Regions from separate parts of the Homo sapiens genome. Here all the other regions are linked to region 1. The links come from fine-mapping of genetic effects on gene expression. A gene starts in region 1. Each other region holds a variant in brackets. All regions are shown on one strand. Distances are between the middles of the regions. Region 1 holds the start of RCOR1 (REST corepressor 1). Region 2 has its middle 16 kb from the start of LINC02323. Region 3 overlaps LOC105370680 (a long non-coding RNA gene).

What was found. PIP is the estimated chance that this variant, and not a neighbour inherited with it, causes the effect.
Region 2: its variant is fine-mapped to the expression of RCOR1 in whole blood (TOPMed, PIP above 0.99).
Region 3: its variant is fine-mapped to the expression of RCOR1 in whole blood (TOPMed, PIP above 0.99). The same link has a PIP of 0.9 or more in monocytes.

What each region holds. Positions count from the first base shown.
Region 1 is chr14:102,590,494-102,594,615 of GRCh38, forward strand. RCOR1 (REST corepressor 1) reads left to right here and starts at 2,156. Exons shown (of 12, transcript NM_015156.4): 1 at 2,156-2,694; 2 at 2,773-2,832. The coding sequence starts at 2,394. RefSeq lists enhancers at 428-477, 759-1,574 and silencers at 1,153-2,462, 2,523-3,132.
Region 2 is chr14:102,558,830-102,562,951 of GRCh38, forward strand. No RefSeq gene overlaps it. Among named protein-coding and RNA genes, the nearest start is that of LINC02323, 16 kb to the left of the region's middle. RefSeq lists an enhancer at 1,739-2,008. The variant T/C (reference allele first, on the strand shown) is at 1,958.
Region 3 is chr14:102,529,206-102,533,327 of GRCh38, forward strand. LOC105370680 (a long non-coding RNA gene) reads left to right here. Exons shown (of 4, transcript XR_944239.2): 3 at 1,651-1,823; 4 at 1,933-2,086. Among named protein-coding and RNA genes, the nearest start is that of MIR4309, 8.4 kb to the right of the region's middle. RefSeq lists an enhancer at 1-34. The variant G/A (reference allele first, on the strand shown) is at 1,699.

The sequences.
Region 1 (4,122 bases):
GCGATGGGAAGGCGAGTGTCCTTAACGTTGGGGTTCCCTATGCTGGAAGGATGGACTCTATTACAGTCCATCAGGCCAGGAGGTAGGTACTGTTTCCTGTATTTTACGGTTGGTAAATCTGAGAGCTTCAGGCCAATACAGTATCGGTGTAGCATTAGGGTCAGACAAAATAGAACAGGGCCCGGCACATATTAAGTGTTAATATTCGTTGGAAAAAAAAAAAAAAGAATGCTTGTCAAGTCCACTGCTGCGCCCCTACTGGTAGCCCAGCCTGGCCTCAGCCTTGGGGGCTGGTGGGTGGAGAGGGCGGCCTTGTGTGCTCTGCTATCCCTATTGCCTTAATGACCCAGTATCACCTTTGTGCCCTTGTAGGTTGATCCTTCTAGTCTCGTGGCAGAACTTTGTAGACACCAAGCGAGCGGGGCAGCGTGTTCTGGACCTCATTCCTCACACAGGGCTCACCTCCGGATGAGTCAGAGGCCTTAGCCGGTGGCCCAGCCCCGGGAATGCCACCCCGGTTCTGTACCCTGCCCAGGCCAGCTGACAGGGTGTATTGGGGCACACACCTGCAGCATCCAGGGCACTCCAAGGAGAGGGACGTACTTTTGAGGAGAGTCTAAAAGTCTAAGTCCCCCACCTGAACTTGGTGGGGGAAGGGCTTCTATACCAGGAGGGCTCCCAGCCCTGTTTCTTAAAGGCCATTTAGGCAGAAGTGAACGTGGTCTCTTCAATAAAGTTAATAATGGTTCATGCTGCAGAAAATGTTCAAGACAAAACCCTGCTTATTTACTCAGGCTTTAAAACCATAAAACTCCCAAATTCTCCCTGTAGCTATTTATATCCAGAGCTAGTCCCCAAATTAAGCTCAGGTTTGAAGTAACTTAAAAGAAAAATAGCCTTCCCTGCTTTAAAAAGATTTTCCGTATAGACCTCCACTGGTCTAATTACGAAGGGCGCGTAGTTTCAGGGTTGGCTGGGGGTAGGGCACCGGGACCTCCAAGGCAGTTACACTCCTCAGCCTCCTAACAGCTGTACGGCTGCCCGGTGGTCCCTCTCCAAGGCAGCGGCTCTCAGGCTAGCCTCAGCCTACCCCACCCGCCCGCACCCCGTGTTCTCCCTCGTGGGGGTGCCGGGGGGAGTAGGGAGGCGGGGCGGGCGGCAGGTCCGGAAAAGTGGCTGCCCTCGCCCCGAAAGAAGTTGACCCTCCTCCCGTGCCGAGAGCTTGGGATGAAAATAGCTTCTTCCTCTTTACCCTTCCTGGACCCCCGCCCCAGGACGACTGGGCCCCTTCATTCATCTTTCAGCGGCCACCCAGGCGGCTTGGGCGTCCCCACGCCGGGACTCTGTGCCCCGGGGACCCACGGGGACCCTCCCTTGGGCCTCTGAAGCCGCGGCGCACCCCGCACCCAAGCCACCCCGGGGGCCCCGGCCTCCCCCACCCAATTAGCGGGCAGCACCGCAGACCCGAGTCCCCACGCAGCTCGCGCCAGGGGAGGCGGCCGCCTGGGAAGCCCGTCCCCCGCGCCGCGGCCCCCGCCCCCGCCAGCCCCGCGTCCCCTGGGAAAGGCGGGGGCGCAGCGAGTTTCCCCCAATTAGTTTCCTCTTTGTATGGAGTCTTAGCGCGCCCGTACTCCTCCGCGCAGCGGAAAGTAGTCCCGGCCGGGCGCTCCGCGGCTTCCCAGCGCCAGACACATTTTACTTTGAGAAGTCGACGGGACTCTCAGCGGGGTCCTTCAGATGGGGGGCCAGAGGCTGCGGGAGGCGTGCGCGGGCAGCAAGGGCAGGGGCCGCGGCCAAGGGTAGGGGGCGGGGAGGGCCGCGAACTCCTCGCCGCTGCCTGGAGAGATGGATCATGGGGCGTAGGGAGATGGCAAACCTCAAACCACGTACGGCGGGCGATACGCGTCAACCGAACCTCGCCAACGGAAGCCCGGAGCCGCCCCTCCCCGCTCCCCCGCCCCGCCGCCCCGGACGGACGGGCGCGCGGAGCCAACCCCGCTGCCGCTGGCTGTCCAAATCCCACCAGAGCCAATGGGAGCGCGAGGGGGGGCGGAGCCATCTCGCGTCAGTTGGGCTGCGCGCCCCCCTCCCCCGGCGCCCCTGCAGGCCCCGCCCCTGCCTCCTCCCCTCTCCGCTCGCTGCTCCCGGAGTAGTTGGTGCCAGTGAAGTGAGGGCGGCGATGAGAGCGAAAGTTGCGCTCGGCTCGTCGCTGGGGGCTTGAAGCGGCTCCGCGCTCTGCCCGTTTGGGCCTCCCCCGACTCGGACTCGCGCCCGTGGGCTCCCGCCGCGCCCGCCCGGCCCCGCGCCGGCCCCGCGCCCCCTCCCCCGTCTCGGCGCCCCCTCCTCAGGAGCCGCGGGTCCCCGCCACTTTCGCACGGCCCCGGCCCCCGCCGATGCCGGCCATGGTGGAGAAGGGCCCCGAGGTCTCAGGGAAGCGGAGAGGGAGGAACAACGCGGCCGCCTCCGCCTCCGCCGCCGCCGCCTCCGCCGCCGCCTCGGCCGCCTGCGCCTCGCCAGCCGCCACTGCCGCCTCGGGCGCCGCCGCCTCCTCAGCCTCGGCCGCCGCCGCCTCAGCCGCCGCCGCCCCCAATAATGGCCAGAATAAAAGTTTGGCGGCGGCGGCGCCCAATGGCAACAGCAGCAGCAACTCCTGGGAGGAAGGCAGCTCGGGCTCGTCCAGCGACGAGGAGCACGGTAGGTGGCAGCCGCCCCCGCGGCCCCGGGCCCCGCGCCCCGCGCCGCGCTGACCGCCGTATTCTGCTTCCCCCGCAGGTGGCGGTGGCATGAGGGTCGGACCCCAGTACCAGGCGGTGGTGCCCGACTTCGACCCCGGTGAGTAGCGGCCCCGGCCGGCCGGCGGCGGGGATGAGCGGGAGCCCCGGGTCCCCGGCGAGCCCGAGGGGGCGGGAGCCCGCCGACAACTTTCTTTTTGTGCGTTCGCCCTGCCGTCCGTGGGGAGAACAGCAGGGCGAGGACGAGGAGGCGCACACGCACACGAGTGTTCTGCAAACGTGCCTCTGCACCCGGGGGAGGCCAGGTCGCCCCCAGCAGGGCCGGCGCCGCTGCCCCCTTGCGCCTCCGAGGACTGCGGGTGGCGTCGGAGGTGGCCACACCTGGCCTGGGGGCGCTGGGGGTCCCTGCGTCCAGGTGAGCTGCGCCTCGGCCAGGGGTAAGGGTGGCAGTGCCGGAGAGTTAGTGTCCTGCGAGCGCCCCGGACTTAGGAGGTCCCCAGAGACCCCTTTCTCGGAACCCTTCCCAAAGGCTGCTCCCCACGCCTTTGCTCCTCCTCTCAGCCTCTGGGCTCTTGCTGGCTCCTGACTGCCCTCCCATCCAGAAGGCGAGTAGAAGAACGACCCCCCAAAACCAGTCAATAAAAGAAGTGTGTTTTCCAGAGGGCGCCTGCCTGGGGAAGAGAGTCTCGCGTGTGGCAGTTGGATTTTAGGACCTATTTGTAAATGTGTGTATTTCCTTTTTTTTGGAGGAAGAGATTGTGAAATTGAGAAGCATCAGAAGCTTTAGCCTAACAAATGCTTTTCACCTACAAGAAAGCCCTACACCCTAGAATGGAACACTTAGTTCCCTGGCTGCTATTCTGTGTAGAAGCAAATTTAAAGTGGTACAAGAAAAAAAATCCGATCAGACAAAGGAATTCGTCAGATTTTAATGCATGAGATTCTAGCCAGTGTCTGTATGAGACTGTCTTTAAAGGTTGTTGGTATGGAAAATGTTTGAAAGAACGTAGGATTTATTTCAGAAATAAAATTCAAAAGAGCATCTTGTAAAGCTGGAGTTAACAATCCTCCATGGTTGGAGGGCTTTAGAGCTGGGGTTCTGTATGTGGGTTATACCACTAGTTTATTTGAAAAGATAAACGCATACATGTTTTTTCCTTGGAAACAAGACTGCAGAAAATTGCAATGATCTAGTCCTTGAAAAAGGCGATTGCTCTCAAGCTGTTATTAAGGTACTAAACTGCACTTTGAAGTGAAAATACATAGAGGTCCTAGGTGAGCTCTTGGACACTCTGGAAATAAATGACTTCCTAAATTGGCCTTCTAAATTTTGATTTGTTGACGTAAATCTGTTAAATTTATTTGTCTAATACTCGCGTTTGTGTTTCTT
Region 2 (4,122 bases), 32 kb before region 1:
GCTAACCCAACTCTCTGGGTCACAGGGGCTCAAGACCTCAGTGGCAGGTCATGAGGAAGGCTGCCCTGCCAGCCTCACCCTGGCTCCCCACCCACTGCCTGCTTCTTTTTTTTTTTTTTTTTTTTTGAGATGGAGTCTCGCTCTGTCACCCAGTCTGGAGTGCAGTGGCGCGATCTCGGCTCACTGCAAGCTCCGCCTCCTGGGTTCACGCCATTCTCCTGCCTCAGCCTCCTGAGTAGCTGGGACTACAGGCGCCCGCCACCACGCTGGGCTAGTTTTTTTTTTTTTGTATTTTTAGTAGAGACGGGGTTTCAGCATGTTAGCCAGGATAGTCTCGATCTCCTGACCTCGTGATCCGCCCGCCTCGGCCTCCCAAAGTGCTGGGATTACAGGCGTGAGCCACCGTACCCAGCCCTGCCTGCTTCTTAAGTGGCCCAGGAGGACAGGGAGTGAGCTTGTCTCTCCCCACTGCAGGGTCCTGAGGGCTGGGGACTGTGCTGACACTGGTCTCTCCCCTGCCTAGGCATATCCTGTTCCTAGTGCTTGGAACACCCTTCCCACCCTCACATGCCTGGCAAATTGTTCTTCACCTCTAGGTTCACATGTCGCCTCCTTCAGCTTTAAATTCCTACACGAGGCCAGGCGCAGTGGCTCACGCCTGTAATCCCAGCACTTTGGGAGGCTGAGACGAGCAGATCACGAGGTCAAGAGATCGAGACCATCCTGGCCAACATGGTGAAACCCCCTCTCTACTAAAAACACAAAAAGTTAGCTGAGCATGGTGTCATGTGCCTGTAATCCAGCTACTCAGGAGGCTGAGGCAGGAGAATCGCTTGAACCCGGGAGGTGGAGGTTGCAGTGAGCCAAGATTGAGCCACTGCACTTCAGCCTGAGAGACAGAGTGAGACTCCGTCTCAAAAATAAAATAAAATAAATTCCTACACGAAGGCTGGGGCTGGCTCCGAGTGAGCGGGCCTGGGGTATTTGTGGGATAATGTAACTTGGGAGTGTCTAAGTAGGAAAAAACTTTAGGTTCTTCAGTCCCATTGTGCATGGGGAAACAGAGGCCCTGTGCTGGTAAGTAATGGGGCAGAAGCCAGGGTGGCTGCCTCAGTTGGAGGGAAAGCGGCACCAAGATTCACAGGACAGCTCTGGGGTCCTGGTCGCAGTCCCTGCCGTGCCGCCTTCTCACTCAGTGACCCTGAGCAAGCTGCTTGCCACGAGATGTCGGCTCCGTGGCAGTGGATAGCTTCAGCCGTGGGAAGTCCTTGGCAATCCCCTGGCTCGCGGCTGGTGCTCAGCTGGGTTCGCTCTGACTAGCACTGCACCTTGGTCACCACCTCGACTGCCACACACCCTCCCCCAGTGGAGACAGAGCCAGGGGTCTCTCAGCTTCCCCAACCCTGGCTCCCCATTGTCCAGCCTCAGGGATTTGGAGACTGGGACAAACTAGCCATGCGGGGGAAAGGTGTTCCAGAGGAGGGAACACAGTGAGCCAACAAGAGGATGGGATGGGGCAGGGCCTGTTCCAGGAACAGGCTGGGGTCACTCTCCCTTCTCCAGAGTCCAAGGCACATGGGTGGTGGGAGAAGAGATAGGAGAGGCTGGCGAAAACCAGCCCGCAAGGCCCTAAATGCCTGACTAAGAAGCTTCAGTCTTTCACTGAAGTTTTGGAGCTAGGTTGGGTGCAGTCAGATAGCTTGGGGGCTGGGCCGGAGCATCTGGTGGAGAGTGAGACACCGGTGTGAGCTGCAGCCCTCGCTGTGGGTCCCAGCACCCAGGACTGCACCCAGCCCAGGACTGCAGCAAGCAGGCACAGGATGCGTGGCTGACTGAGGCCTGTACTCCGACTGGAGTCACCTAGGAGATTGGCTGAGATGACCTCCAGAAGGGCCTTGCCCCAGGCCGGACCCCAAGGGGAAGCTGGCTCTATGTCTTTGGACGAGTTAGGAACTCA[T/C]TGGGGGTGGCTGCGGTTTTATTTGGGGATTCAGCTGTGCCCTGCACACCAGCTGCTGAGCAATGTCTCCAGGAAGCCACAGCTGCCCTCTGGGAGGCAGGGGGCCAGGTGCAGTAGAGGAGATGCCCCAGCGGCTCATGCAGGAGCTCACTCAGACGCCAGAACCCCAGCCAAGGAGGCACCCCAGACCCAGGCCCACCAGGGCCAGTGTCCCCACTCCACGACAGGGGCACTGCAGCCGGGGTGGACACCCAGCCTTGCTGCTCACTAGTCACGTGGTCTGGGCAAGTCTCTTCCTCTTCCCTGAGTGAGGTGAGGCAGGATGGGCTAGGATATGTGGTGGTAACAAACAACTCCAGTCTCTTTTTTTATAATTTCCTACAGACTTTTTTTTGTTCTTGTTGAGGCAGAGTATCGCTCAATTGCTAAGGCTGGAGCACAGTGGTGCTATCTCAGCTCACTGCAACCCCCACTCCCCAGGTTCAAGTTATTCTCTTGCCTCAGCCTCCCAAGTAGCTGGGATTACAGGCGTGCACCACCAAACCTGGCTAATTTTTGTACTTTTAGTAGAGATGGGGTTTCATCATATTGGCCAGGCTGGTCTCGAACTCCTGACCTCAAGTGATCCACCCGCCTCGGCCTCCCAAAGTGTTGGGATTACAGGCATGAGCCACCGCACCCGGCCAACCTGTAGATTTTTTGAGATAAAACAGCTTTATTGAGATCTAATTCACATATCACACAATTCATTTTAAAGCGTGCAGCTCTCTGTGGTGGATGGTATATTCGCAGAGTTGTGCAACCATCACCACAATCAATTTTAGAACATTTTCGAGGCCGGGCGCGGTGGCTCACGCCTGTAATCCTAGCACTTTGGGAGGCCAAGGCGGGCAGATCACCTGAAGTCAGGAGTTTGAGACCAGCCTGGGCAACATGGTGAAACCCCCCTCTACTAAAAATACAAAAATTAGCTGGGCATGGTGGAGGGCGCCTGTAATCCCAGCTACTCTGGAGGCTGAGGCAGGAGAATCGCTTGAACCCAGGAGGCAGAGGTTGCAGTGAGCCGAGATTGCACCACGGCACTCCAGCCTGGGCGACAGAGTGAGACTCTGTCTCAGAAAAAAAAAAAAAAAAAAAAGAACATTTTAATCACCCTCCAAACACACCATGTACCCATTAGTAACCACTCTCCATTTACCTGCTCTGCCCAGCCCCTGGCAACCACTCACACACTTTCCATCTCTATGGGTTTGCGTGTTCTGGACATTTCATATAAATGAAACCATATGACGTCGCCTTTTGTGACTGACTTCTTTCACTTAGCAAAACTTTTTAAAAATAGCTTTTATTGGCTGGGTGCAGTTGTTTGTGCCTGTAATCCCAGCACTTTGGGAGGCCGAGGCGGGCCGATCACGAGGTCAGGAGATCCAGAACATCCTGGCCAACATGATGAAACCCCGTCTCTACTAAAAGTACAAAAATTATCCGGGCGTGGTGGTGCATGCCTGTAATCCCAGCTACTCAGGAGGCTGAGGAAGGAGAATTGCTTGAACCAGGGAGTTGGAGGTTGCAGTGAGCCAAGAGCCCACCACTGCACTCCAGCCTAGAGACAGAGCGAGACTCCGTCTCAAAGAAAAAGAAAGCTGGCTGGGCGCGGTGGTTCACGCCTGTAATCCCAGCACTTTGGTAGGCCGAGGCGGGTGGATCACAAGGTCAGGAGATCAAGACCATCCTGGCTAACATGGTGAAACCCCGTCTCTACCAAAATACAAAAAATTATCCAGGCGTGGTGGCGGGTGCCTGTAGTCCCAGCTATTTGGGAGGCTGAGGCGGGAGAATAGTGTGAACCCGGGAGGCGGAGTTTGTAGTGAGCCCAGATTGCACCAGCCTGGGGACAGAGTGAGACTCCGTCTCAAAAAAAAAAGAAAGCTTTTTTTTTCAGAGCTGCCTGAGGTTCACGGCCAAATTAAGCAGAAGGTACAGAGAGTTCCCATGTACCTCTGCCCCCACACATGCACAGCCTCCCTCACAATCAACATCCCCCGCTGGAGCCGCACATTTGTTACAACTGAGGAACCTACAGGGCCACATCATCACCGGAAGTCCAGGGTTTCCATGAGGGTTCCCTCTTCCTGCCGGATGCTTCACGCGTTCGGGCGAATGTA
Region 3 (4,122 bases), 61 kb before region 1:
GCACTCCAGCCTGGACAACGGAGCAACACCCTGTCTGAAAAAAATATAATAAATTAAAAATAAAGCCTGGGTGCAGTGGATCATGCCTGTAATCCCAGCACTTTGGGAGGCCTAGGTGGTCGGATCACCTGAAGTCAGGAGTTCGAGACCAGCCTGACCAACATGGAGAAACCCGGTCTCTACTAAAAATACAAAATTAGCCAGGCGTGGTGGCATATGCCTGTAATTCCAGCTACTCAGGAAGCTGAAGCAGGAGAATCACTTGAAGCTGGGAGGCAGAGGCTGTGGTGAGCCAAGATCGTGCCACTGCACTCTAGCCTGGGCAAGAAAAGCGAAACTCCATCTCAAAAATAAAATAAAATTAAAAAATAGCCGGGCGCTGTGGCTCACACCTGTAATCCCAGCACCTTGGGAGGCCAAGGCAGGCAGATCACAAGGTCAAGAGTTCGAGACCAGCCTGACCAACATGGTGAAACCTCATCTCTACTAAAAATACGAAAATTAGTCGGGCGTGATTGCACGCCCCTATAGTCCCAGCTACTCAGGAGGCTGAGGCAGGAGAATCGCTTGAACCCGGGAGGCGGAGATTGCAGTGAGTCAAGATGGCGCCACTACACTCCAGTCTGGGTGACAGAGCGAAACTGATCCCAAAAAATAAATAAATAGAATAATGAAGATAGAAATCATTTGGGGTCCCTGCACCCTACATAAAATGTCAAATCATAAACCCCAGGGCCTACTCTGAACCAAGACCTCTCTGTTCCTCACTGTACCTCCTCAGAGAAGAAACTCTGGAAGAGCAAGAAAAGTGTTAGACTCAGAGTCAAGCGGACCCAGTAGAAAACCCCAGAAAAGGACAGCTCAGACTCAATGGAAGCTTATTTTTCTCTCATTGTGAAGATGTCGGCCGGGCGCGGTGGCTCACACCTGTAATCTCAGTACTTTGGGAGGCCAAGGGGAGTGAATCGCTTGAGGTCAGGAGTTCGAGACCAGCCTGGCCAACATGGTGAAACCCCGTCTCTACTAAAAATACAAAAAAATTAGCTGGGCGTGGTGGCAGGCGCCTGTAATCCCAGCTACTTGGGAGGCTGAGGCAGGAGAATCACTTGAACCCGGGAGGTGGAGGTTGCAGTGAGCTGAATTGTGCCACTGCACTCCAGCCTGGGCAACAGAGCAAAATGCTGTCTCAAAAACAAAAACAAAAACAAAATCTGTTTAGAGGGGCCCAGGGCTTATATGGCAAGGAGTGTCACAGTGTCAGGAACCTGGGCTGCCTTTATTCCTTTCATCCTGTGGCTCTGCCGTACCTGGTTTTATTTTTTTTCTTTTTGTTTGCTGTTGTTTTTTGAGATGGAGTTTTGCCCTGTAGCCCAGGCTGGAGTGCAATGGCGCAATCTTGGCTCACTGCAACCTCCGCCTCCTGGGTTCAAGTGATTTTCCTGCCTCAGCCTCCAGAGTAGCTGGGACTATAGGCTCACGCCACCACGCCTGGCTGATTTTTTGTACTTTTAGTAGAGACGGGGTTTCACCATGTTGGCCAGGCTGGTCTCCAACTCCTGACCTCAGGTGATCCACCTGCCTCAGCCTCCCAAAGTACTGGGATTACAGGTGTGAGCCACTGTGCCTGGCCTCTTTTTTTCTTTTTTTTAGACACAGAGTCTGGCTCTGGGGCCCAGGCTTGAGTGCAGTGGTGAGACG[G/A]GAGAATAAGTCCTAGAGGAAGGGAACCTGAGGACTTCCCAGAACTAAATCAGATGGAGAGGAGAGAGGAGGCATTTCAGCTACGACAGGAAATATCCTCTTCATTTGCATAGGGCGTTCACCAAGTAAGTGACTTTGTAACTTCATCCTCTTCATTTACATAGGGTGTACACCCAGTAAATAGCTTTGTAACTTCACTTCAGTAACTCACTTTAAGCCTCTTCATTTACATAGGGTGCACACCAAATAACCAATGGAAACCTCTAGAGAGTATTTAAACTCCAGAAAATTCTGTGACGGGCTCTTGAGCCAACGTGCTCCGGCCGCTCCCACTCTGTGCAGTCGACTGTACTTTTGTTTTCAATAAAACTCTGCTTTTGTTTCTTCATTCTTTCCTTGATTTGTTTATACGTTTTGTCCAATTCTTTGTTCAAGACACCAAGATCCTGGAAACCCTCCAACGCTAACAGTGGCACGATCACAACTCACTGCAGCCTCTCCTGGGCTCAGGTGATCCTCCCACCTCAGCCTCTCAAGTAGCTGGGACTACAGGCCCACACCGCCATGCCCGGCTAATTTTCGTGCTTTTTGTAGAGATGGAGGTCTCCCTCGGTTTCCCAGGCTGGTCTCGAACGCCTGACCTTGTGATCCGCCCGCCTCAGCCTCCCAAAGTGTTGGGATTACAGGTGTGAACCACCGCGCCCGGCCTGGACCCTCCATTTCTTTTTTTTTTTTGAGACAGAGTCTCGCTCTGTTGCCAAGGCTGGAGGGCAGTGGCTCTATGTTGGCCCACTGCAAGCTCCGCCTCCCCGGTTCACGCCATTGTCCTGCCTCAGCCTCCCGAGTAGCTGGGACTACAGGCGCCTGCCACTACGCCTGGCTAATTTTTTTGTATTTTTAGTAGAGACTGGATTTCACCATGTTAGCCAGGATGGTCTCCATCTCCTGACCTCATGATCCACCCGCCTCGGCCTCCCAAAGTGCTGGGATTACAGGCGTGAGCCACCGCGCCCGGCCTAGTTTTCTTTTTTAAGACGGAGTCTCACTCTGTCGCCGAGGCTTCACTGCAACCTCCGTCTCCCAGGTTCAAAGGTTTCTCCTGCCTCAGCCTCCCAAGTAGCTGGGATTATAGGCGCCCACCACCATGCCTGGCTAATTTTTGTATTTTTAGTAGAGACGGGGTTTTGCCATGTTGGCCAGGCTGGTCTTGAACTCCTGACCTCAGGTGATCCACCCGCCTCAGCCTCCCAAAGTGCTGGGATTACAGGCATGAGCCACTGCACTGGGCCACATGAATAGTTTTCATTTCTGAGATCACTTCGTGTTCAAAATGGTTGCTGAAACTCCTGCCATTTTATCTGCATTCCCAGAAGTGAGAAGGGAGTAGAGTGTGCCTTTCCCTTTAAGAACTCTTTATGAAGTCAAACACACTCCTTACATTGAGGCCAAAAATTAGTCACATGGCCACACCTATGTGTAAGGGAGGCTGGGAAATGTCTTAATTCCAGGCAGCAAATGCCCTGATAAAATATCAGCTTCTAATCCCTTGGATCTCTGTGGGAGGTGGAGGTGGGGAGTGGAAGTGGAGGACCGTGAGCAATAGCTGATGTAATCACTGAGAAGCTGTGTGTCCTTGGGCAAATCCCTTCACCTCTCTGAGCTCCTGCCTGTCTTTGAAATGAGGATGTAGAAAGATCATCTCCAAGGACACTCCCTGCCTTGACATTTTGAGACTCTGGCGCAGGGAGCCCAGGGTGGTCAAAGACAAGAACAGAAGCTGCTTGGGTTTAAAAGTTGCCTGGCCAGGCACGGTGGCTAACGCCTGTAATCCCAGCACTTTAGGAGGCCGAGGCGAGTGAATCTCCAGGTCAGGAGTTCGAGAGCAGCCTGGCCAACACGGTGAAACCCCGTCTCTACTAAAAATACAAAAAAATTACCTGGGCATAATGACAGGCACATGTAATCCCAGCAACTTGGGAGGCTGAGGCAGGAGAATCGCTTGAACCCAGGAGGCGGAGGTTGCAGTGAGCCAAGATCGCGCCACTGCACTCCAGCCCTGGCGACAGAGTGAGACTCCGTCTCAAAAAAAAAAAAAAAAAAATGTTGCCTGTTCTGGGCTGGGCGCGGTGGCTCATGCCTATAATCCCAACAATTTGGGAGGCTGAGGCAGGCAGATCACAAGGTCAGGAGTTCAAGACGAGCCTGGCCAACATGGAGAAATCATGCCTCTGCTAAAAATACAAAAAATTAGCCGGGCATGGTGGCAGGCACCTGTAATCCCAGCTACTCGGGAGGCTGAGGCAGGAGAATCTCTTGAACCCAAGAGACAGAGGTTGCAGTGAGCCCAGACTGTGCCACTGCACTCCAGACTGGGCAACAGAGCAAGACTCCATCTCAAAAAAAAAAAGAATGGCTAAGGCAGAG